Regions from separate parts of the Homo sapiens genome. Here region 2 is reported to be linked to region 1. The links are microRNA targets in miRTarBase. Many come from high-throughput screens and were not tested one by one. Region 1 holds a microRNA gene; the other region holds the end of a gene's coding sequence.

Region 1 (4,151 bases):
CGACTGCGCCGGGCGGGTAATGGATAATAACATCGCGCCGGCAGCCGTGAGCAGCTCCACAGCGTGACCAACGACTTTATACAGTGCAGATAAAGAGGCCTGCACGCAACACCGCCTCACACTCCAGGGGGGCCGGGCGGGGACGATGCCACAGCCAGGTGTGCAGAGCCGGCGTGGCTGGGCCTGGGGGCCGTGACTTCCAGAGGGGGACCCGGGCCAGGGTGGTGCTGGGAGCTGCCAGAAGGGCAAAGCCTGTCTGGAGCAGGGCTCTGTCTGCTGGTCACTCTCGATGGTCTAGGAAGGGCAGGGCCAGGCCTTCAGAGTAGGTGTGAAGGGGCACCAGCAGCCTGGAAGCCTCAGGGGAGCCTGGACCCTGCTCCCCAGCCTCGAGGGCCCAGGGCCGGCCACACGCGCCCTGCCATGCCAGTGCCCAGGACTCACTTGACTTTCTTGCCATCGCTCCTGGGGAGCGGCCCCGTGGGACGTGGGGCAGGCAGCGAGCTTGAGTGTTTGCGCTTCCTCGGCCGGCCAGGCCCCCGCCGTGCAGGGCTCCGTGAACTCTCGTCTCTCCTGGGGGCCGCAGGGGGGATGGTCAGAGGCTCATGCACAACCCAGCTCCCCGACAAGGTTCCAGCCGAGGGCATTGGCCTTCGAGGGCTACTGGGTGTGGGGAAAGATGCGGCCCAGACTCGGCCTGGGGAGCCTGACCCCTCACGCAGAGGGCAAGGCCAGCCAGGGGCCCCCGCCGCCCCCACCTCCTACCATCCACACACACTGGTCAGGTGGTGCCCCTGCCCTTGTTGCAACTGCGGGGTGTCCCCTCCCCCAGAGAATCCCCCAACTTCTGCCCTGGCCCCACAGCACCCCCAGTCCTCCCTACTCCCCCTTCTGCCACTGTCCCCTCACCCGCCACCCTGCGGCCAGCCTCCTGCCACACCAGGCTCTGACAAGCGGCTCTTCCACAGACCCCTGGCCCTGCCACTTGGTCTCGCTGCTGGCCGAATGCCTCCCTCCTTGGGCCCCACTGCCTCTGGGGGGCCTCCCCGATGGACCCTGGTGTCTGCCCACAGGTAGGGGGCAGAGCCCAATCCTGGCCTGTTCCCACATCGGCCCCAGCACTGTGGGCGCCTCCCGGGGGTGGGGGTGCTGCGACCCTCCCAGGCCCCCCCGCCACGCCAGGCGTACTCATGGTCGTGCTTGCGCTGCAGGCGGGCCAGCTCCCGCTGCTTCTCCTTGTAGCGCCGCTGCAGCTCCGCCAGCCGCACGCGCATCCCCACCTCCTGCGTGTCCAGCCGGTCGATGGCGGCCTTCAGGGGGCACACCTGGTGGGGGGGGCACAGGGGCCTGTGAGCCGGGCCAGGGCCCAGGCTGGGGCTCTGTGGCAACGCACTGGGCGACGTGGGCACTGGGACCTCCACTCACAGGCTTGGTCTTGGGGGTCCAGGTGTCCTTGCGCTGCAGGATCTGCATGCGGGGGGTGAGCCTGGGGCCGCTGCAGGGGTTGGCTGTGGGCGGCTGCGCTGGGGCAGTGGAGCTGTCCAGGCCAGCGGCCTCCACCAGGGACCAGGCTGTGGCCAGCGTGGCCAGGTGCTGCAGGTTGAAGGCTAGCACGTCCTCTTCCTCCTCTGTGCGGCATGGGAAGGTCAGCATGGGCATAACTGGGCACACACTGCCCCTCACAGGCTCTTGATGTCAGCCCTGGCCCCCTGAAGCCACCCAGCCTTGAAGACCGGGATGAGGGTCAGGAGACCGGGAAGAGTGAGGTGGGCACCAGGGCTGACACCCAGCACCCCTGTTTTGCTGCATGCTGGGGAGACACTCCCTTGGTGGTAAGGCAGGGCCAGCTGGGAGGACCCACGGGGCAGGGTCCTCTGTGTCACAGAGCAAGACAGGCCCCAAAGCATCGAAGTAAAAGCAATCTGCTCGTTACAGCTTCTAACAGAAACGCCTGTGTGTCCCCCCACCGGGGGGGCCCTGCTTCGAACGGCAGCCCTGGGAAGGGATACTCTGGGGCCCTCAGAGACACAGGCAGTGCTACGAGAGCCCACTGAGGCCTCGTGCACGGAAGCTGCTGAAGTTCAACCGAGTTGAATGCTGTGGCTCAAGCCTGCGGTTCCAACAGGCGTCTGTCTACGTGGCTTCAACCAAGTTCAAAGTCACGCGGAGAGATGGCTTTGGAACCAGGGGCTTCAGCACCTGGGCATCACTCCATCCAGGTGGTGGAGGCTGGCGTCCCCCAGCAGCTAAGACCTGCCATTGCCTGTCCATCTGCCCATCAGTCCTTCCGTCCACTCGCCTGTGTGGACACCTAAAGAGCAATGGCTGCAGGGAGGCCAGTGGTCAGTGCAGAGGGAGGGGACAAGTCCCCTCGATACCTTTAAATTTGAGACAGGGTCTCGCTTTATTGCCTGGGCTGGAGTGTGGTGGCTCCATCACGGCTCACTGCAACCTCGAACTCCTGGGCTCCAGTACCCTCCCACCTCAGCTTCCTGGGTAGCTGGGACCCCAGGCCCTCGATTCCTTGTGAGGAGGGCAGCGGGCAGGGGTTTCTGGATGCAGTCTCATCTGCTGTGACCCTTCTCAGAGGAGCAGCCACCATTCCTCCATCCTCCCTCAGAGCACCAAATCCCTGCCCCTGCCCGGTCTCTGAACACAGTGCTGGGCTCTGCCAAGCCCTTTCCAGCACGCTCCAGCCCTGGGGCAGGCAGGAGGGCCATGGGCTGAACACAGGTCAGGAGGAAGGGGCTGCCAGGGCCGCATCCTCTGGGACCTCAACCTGGGGGCAGGGACAGGGGAGCTACCCTCACAGTGACCGCAGGAACAGCGGCAGCCCAACAGCCCAGGCAGTGGCCTGGGGAAGGGATGGCCCATCTTGGGGTCAGAGCATGGGCCAGCAGAGGCTGGCGTCCATGCAGGGTCGGGCCCAGGTTGGGGACTCAGGGCCTGAGTAGGGGAAGCCAGCCCTGAGGGCTGACCACAGAGACCAGGAACGGGGTCCCCATGGGCTGATCCCACAAGGACATCCAGCAGGAGACAGGAGCCAGACACCTTGCGGTGGGGGTGGGTGGTGATGGCCAGGAAGGCAGGAGAACTGCGGAACCCCTGTGGGGTGAGTAGAGGTGCTGGTATCCCCTGGGAAAGCCCAGGAGCAACGATAACCTCACAGCAACGAGCACCCCAAACCTAGTCTCTGCCTCAGAACCCCACGCTCCACTTAACGGACCGGGGCTCCCCAGAGATATGGCTCATCTCAGCCAGAAGCAGGAGTGCGGGAGAACCCCATCCACGATGGGACAAATCAGCGCCTGACAGCTGGGGCACGCACCTGAGATTCCACCAAAGGCACTGACCTGAGCGCCCAGGCTGGGGCACTCCATGGTGCGTGGCTGCTTCCCTCCTCAAGTATGGGGAGGGCCAGGGGGCCACAAGCCCAGACCAAGGGTTGATCCATCCCCAGAAGTCATTACTAAGAAGCCAGGAGGTGCTCGGAGGGGCAGATGCTGGGGTGCAAAGCTCTGGACCGAGACCACAGATCTGATGGGGACCAAGGGAACACTCAGGCTGCTGGGTCCAGGATCCGCAGGGAATGGGAGGGGGAGAGAGGGCCGAGGGGGGGTGGGCTGAGCAGCTGCTGCCATCAGCAGCCGGGGAGGCACATCTGCAGGCCCCTTCCACTGAAGGCCCCAGGTCTCCTGGGGTCACTGCAGTTGGCCAGAAGCCCCTCTGTGCCTCCCCTGCCCTTGCAGGCTACAGGCGTGTGGCTCCCACGTGGCCTCACCCAGATGGTTCTGCCAGTCCTGGGGGCTCTATGCTTGCCCGGCCCCGATGGTGGGGGCTTTTTCTCCACTTCCCCCTCTGCAAATCTTGCTGTCTGGCACAGGACAAAACCAACCTCCTAATTAATTTCAATTGAAGTGATCGCTACACTTGTAGGGATCAGCTCTGAGCCCAGCAGCTGCAGAGACCTGCCCATTAACGGGGACAAGGGGAGGGCAGGGGCAGGGGTGGGGGCCCAGGGGGGGACCATGAGGTGGAGACCCGGAGGGCAGAGCTGGCCCTGACTCCACTTCTGCACACCCTGGGGATTGGGACACCTGGCCTGGCCGGAGTGTGACGACATCCATGCTGGGTTAAGCCACATGGCCCACCAC
Region 2 (4,000 bases), not on the chromosome of region 1:
CACAGAAACTTTGTGTCCCAAATAGAGGACAGATACCTTGTCTGTTACTCATAGTAATCCTCCCTTACATTTGTATAACATGTAAAGTTTTACAAAGTACTTACACCTCCCTTATCTAATTCAATCTTCATAACCACCCTGGGCAGTACTAATACTATACACAGGTCTCCAACTTCAAGGTTGGTGTTCCTGCCACTGCCCAGGTGAAGCTGCAAAGCTGCTGCCACCTCTATCTCCATGGTTGCCTCTGTCTGGCCATCTCAGGCCTCAGCTCTGCCCCATCCATATACTAAGAGTTAACCAAGCGTGGAATTGGGGTATGTTACCTGAGCATCAGTCAGTTTTGCCAGGAGACCTGATACTTGTCCTTGTTTCCATTAGTCTATTTAGGAAAAGCTGGGAATGCATCCTTCTATGACTTGTTGGTTTTTAGCACTGTTGTCTGGGTTTGCATGTGTAAATATACCTATGCTATGCAGCTGCGTGGGTATCCCCAAAGGAGGGATTGTTGCAGTCTTTGACCGCCCTTTTATTTGCTAGGAATAACGGCCTTATATTCTGGACTGAAACCTACTATGATTCGAGCATTCCCTGCCAATGGAGCACTCTTTTTGGCCTACGAATATAGCAGGAAGTTGATGATGAACCAGTTGGAAGCATACTGAAGTGTCTTGGTGGGCCTGAGCCAAGCACAGGTGTTTGAGGACTACAGTTCATCTCAGGGTTTCTTGGAGTACAAGACCAGTGTGAAGTTATTCTGATTTCTTGGGAATTTTGCTTTTTGTCTTCCCTTCTACCCTACATCTTAAACTTTATGGAAGAACCTCTATTTTGCATCATATCATTTCTGTCCATAATTGTACTGAAATAGAAAAGTGACCGCTCTTGCTCTTGGTAAAATATAGAGTGGTCAGTAGCCTTATGCACCTAATTCAAAAGGTGGAATATAGTTCTGTCAGGGCTTTTACGTAAACCTCCACTTGTACATGCAATTTGGACAGTTATGTGTTGAGGGAAATACAGTTTGGTACCTTGTTTATTTCAAATATCAGAAAAACCCAGAGGTGATCATTTCTCATGAAGATGCTTATAAATGGTTGCTTAACCCATTCTAGATGTAGGGTCTGCTTAATGTGTGTACTTTTCTAAGTGGTTGATTATTTTTTATTTTTTTGATACAGAGTCTCACTCTGTCACCCAGACTGGAGTGCAGTGGCACGATCTCGGCTCACTGCAACCTCCGCCTCCTGGGTTCAAGCGATTCTCTCACCTCAGCCTCCTGAGTAGCTGGGATTACAGGTACGCGCCACCATGTCCAGCTAATTTTTTTTGGTATTTTTTGTAGAGACGAGGTTTCACCATGTTGTCCAGGTTGGTCTCGAACTCCTGACCTCAAGTGATCCGCCCACCTCGGCCTCCCAAAGTGCTGGGATTACTGGTGTGAGCCACCATGCCCAGCCAGTGGTTGAATTTTTTAAAAAGTGTTCATGGGGTGCTTGAAAACTAAAATATCCTTCTAGATTTGTAAGACAGTATACCTGCATACTGGTGTGGCTTCCACACTTGAGTAAAAGCTTCAGAGTAGGTATCCTAGATTTCCCCAAGATGCTCTACTCTTAAAATAGTGCCATTCATTTTCTAGGTGGGATCATATTCCACGCTGACTATATTGCTAGGGGTGGCCCAGAGGGTCAGGCCTTTGGGAAATAGCATGGCCTTTACCAGCTTCCCTTCTCTCCCAAAGAACTTCCCTTCTTGGGCTTTAGATTGAGGAAGGGGCTGAGTGGTAGGCGGTGCTGCTGTGCTCTGATGAAGACCCATGTGGCTAGCAACAGCGCTTACCTTTTGTCTCTGGGTCCTGGCCTGGGGCCATCAATCCACTTTGGGCCACTCACTGTCTGCTCTGCCTCCACCAATCAGAAACCCTTCCAAGGAACAGTGAGAGCCAAAGCCAAGAGAAGCCTTCTTCCCTGTTTGGTGATTGTGTGACAGTGGGTGAACCTCTCTCAGAGAGAACTAGAAAGAACTCAGTGCTTGTACTCCACAGTGAGTAATGTCAGGTCTGACCCATCCTGAAGCCTGTCTTGCCATGCTTTTACAGTGTTGGAGGCTTCTACATTTGGTACTTGCAGTCAGTAAGTCTTAATGATGACTGTATATGTGATATGAGTTTATAAAGCAATGGAACATAAGAAAAGCAATTGTAGGCCAGGCGCAGTGGCTCACGCCTATAATCCCAGCACTTTGGGAGGCTGAGGCGGGCGGGTCACAAGGTCAGGAGTTCGAGAACAGCCTGACCAACATGGTGAAACCCCATCTCTACTAAAAATACAAAAATTAGCTGGGCGTGGTGGCACGTGCCTGTAATCCCAGCTACTCAGGAGGCTGAGGCAGGAGAATCGCTTGAACCCGGGAGGCAGAGGTTGCAGTGAACTGAGATTGTGCCACTGCACTCCAGACTGGGTGACACAGCGAGACTTCATCTCAAAAAAAAAAAGAAAAGAAAAGCAATTGTACTTCACTATGCCATATGTATGTATTCACTGACCAAAAATTCACTGACCAACCAACCAAACTCCACACTTCATCTGATCCCCCATAGACTTGGGGATGGACAGCTGTTCTTTGGCCATATGGTATAAGAGGATCATTCTTGTCACTACTTAAGTTAGCCTCATCATTTTGTGCTGCTCCAACACCAGCAGGGTATCTCCCAATAAAGTGTTCCTAAGCAGCCTGTATACTGAGTGCAAGCAGGCTATCAATTTTAATAATAGTCCATACCATGTATGTGTTTCTGTCAGCAGAATGTACATGTTGTACAAAACCTCCAGGTTCCTTAAGCTTTTTGCTGTCCATGAATCCTCTGTGGCAACTGTAATCACAGAGCCAGAAGCCAGAGGGCCAGGGATATGAGAGGCTGACAAACATCAGGGGACATCTGGGGAGGAGATCCCTGTCATGTCTCTTGTGCCATGGAGCTATTATGGCTGGTCTTCCATTTGCTTTTTCTTTAAGTGAAAACCATTTTTCTACTTTGCTTTTCTCTCCATACTTAAATGGTCAGTAGCTACTGAGTGGTGCTTTATCTGAATAGGCCTGGATCGAAGTAAAATAGAAATGGGACTGGCTTTCCACAGGAAGTAAACTGCTTCAGAGCCCACAGTCCCCTGCTCAGTGTCCGGAAAGAAGTCAGTCATCCCTGTTGGCAGTAAATCTTCCCACAGGCCGTCCATTAGAGATTTAACTAGATATGTTCAATAGAAAGAGTCTGAGGCAAGTGGAAATGAGGAACGGAAACTTAGGTTGGGAGAATATTTTTTTTTTATTCATTCTGTTTGCTTAATTCAGAGTACAGTTTGTGCTATTTCATATCTGTACTCCAGGCAGAAATATAACTTGAAAATACTGTGTCTAAAGAAATTTCAGTGTTCTATCATTAAATTATTTACTTAATATTTGAGTCTGATGAATTTCATTGAAGTTCTTTACATCCATGTTGGGAAACAACTGTCAGGAATGTTAAAGAGTTATGTATAGTAGTGTTTCAAGGCAGTGGTTTTATTGCAACAAGCATTGTTTTCTGTCAGCAAGACACCTCATGTAAAATAATTTCACCATAGGTAAGGTGACAAAAATATTTCTATGCTCTGAAGTTATGGAACTTGGCTCACTAGAATTACTTTCTCCCTCCACCTCTTTCCCTCTATTTTAAAAAATAGTTAAACTGTCTGCTTTTAAGTTTTGGATGATTCCATTCCAAGTTACTAAATTCTACTTAAGAAAACAAGTATCTGAAGTGCCAAGATGGCTGACTAGAAGCAGCTAGTGTGCGCAGCCTTCACAAGAGGAGACAGAGTGGTGAGTGAACACAAGCTCTTCAGGTTGATCATCCAGCAGGCTGTGTTGGGATTCATCAGGGAAGCTGTGGTGAGTCATGGAGAGCATAGGGGAGTAAGGAAGGACAGCTGTCCACCTGGGATTGGTGCAGAGCAAGGGG

The links. The annotated mature microRNA hsa-miR-3186-5p reads CAGGCGUCUGUCUACGUGGCUU and lies in region 1 at 2,120-2,141, shown strand. An mRNA with a match to its seed (bases 2 to 7 or 8) in the 3' UTR can be bound and repressed. Matches are read on the target gene's strand: a 7mer-m8 pairs with bases 2 to 8, a 7mer-A1 pairs with bases 2 to 7 and ends in A, and an 8mer does both.
Region 2: the mRNA of SLC25A15 is a reported target of hsa-miR-3186-5p. Seed matches in the 3' UTR shown: 7mer-A1 at 2,225-2,231.

The regions. Positions count from the first base shown.
Region 1 is chr17:81,449,142-81,453,292 of GRCh38, reverse strand. It overlaps MIR3186 (microRNA 3186), which reads left to right and starts at 2,105; the gene lies at 2,105-2,189. It overlaps BAHCC1 (BAH domain and coiled-coil containing 1), which reads right to left. Exons shown (of 28, transcript NM_001377448.1): 12 at 1,423-1,625; 13 at 1,186-1,322; 14 at 442-570.
Region 2 is chr13:40,809,003-40,813,002 of GRCh38, forward strand. SLC25A15 (solute carrier family 25 member 15) reads left to right here. Exons shown (of 7, transcript NM_014252.4): 7 at 541-3,458. The coding sequence ends at 665. It overlaps MIR621 (microRNA 621), which reads left to right and starts at 1,764; the gene lies at 1,764-1,859. It also overlaps the pseudogene TPTE2P5.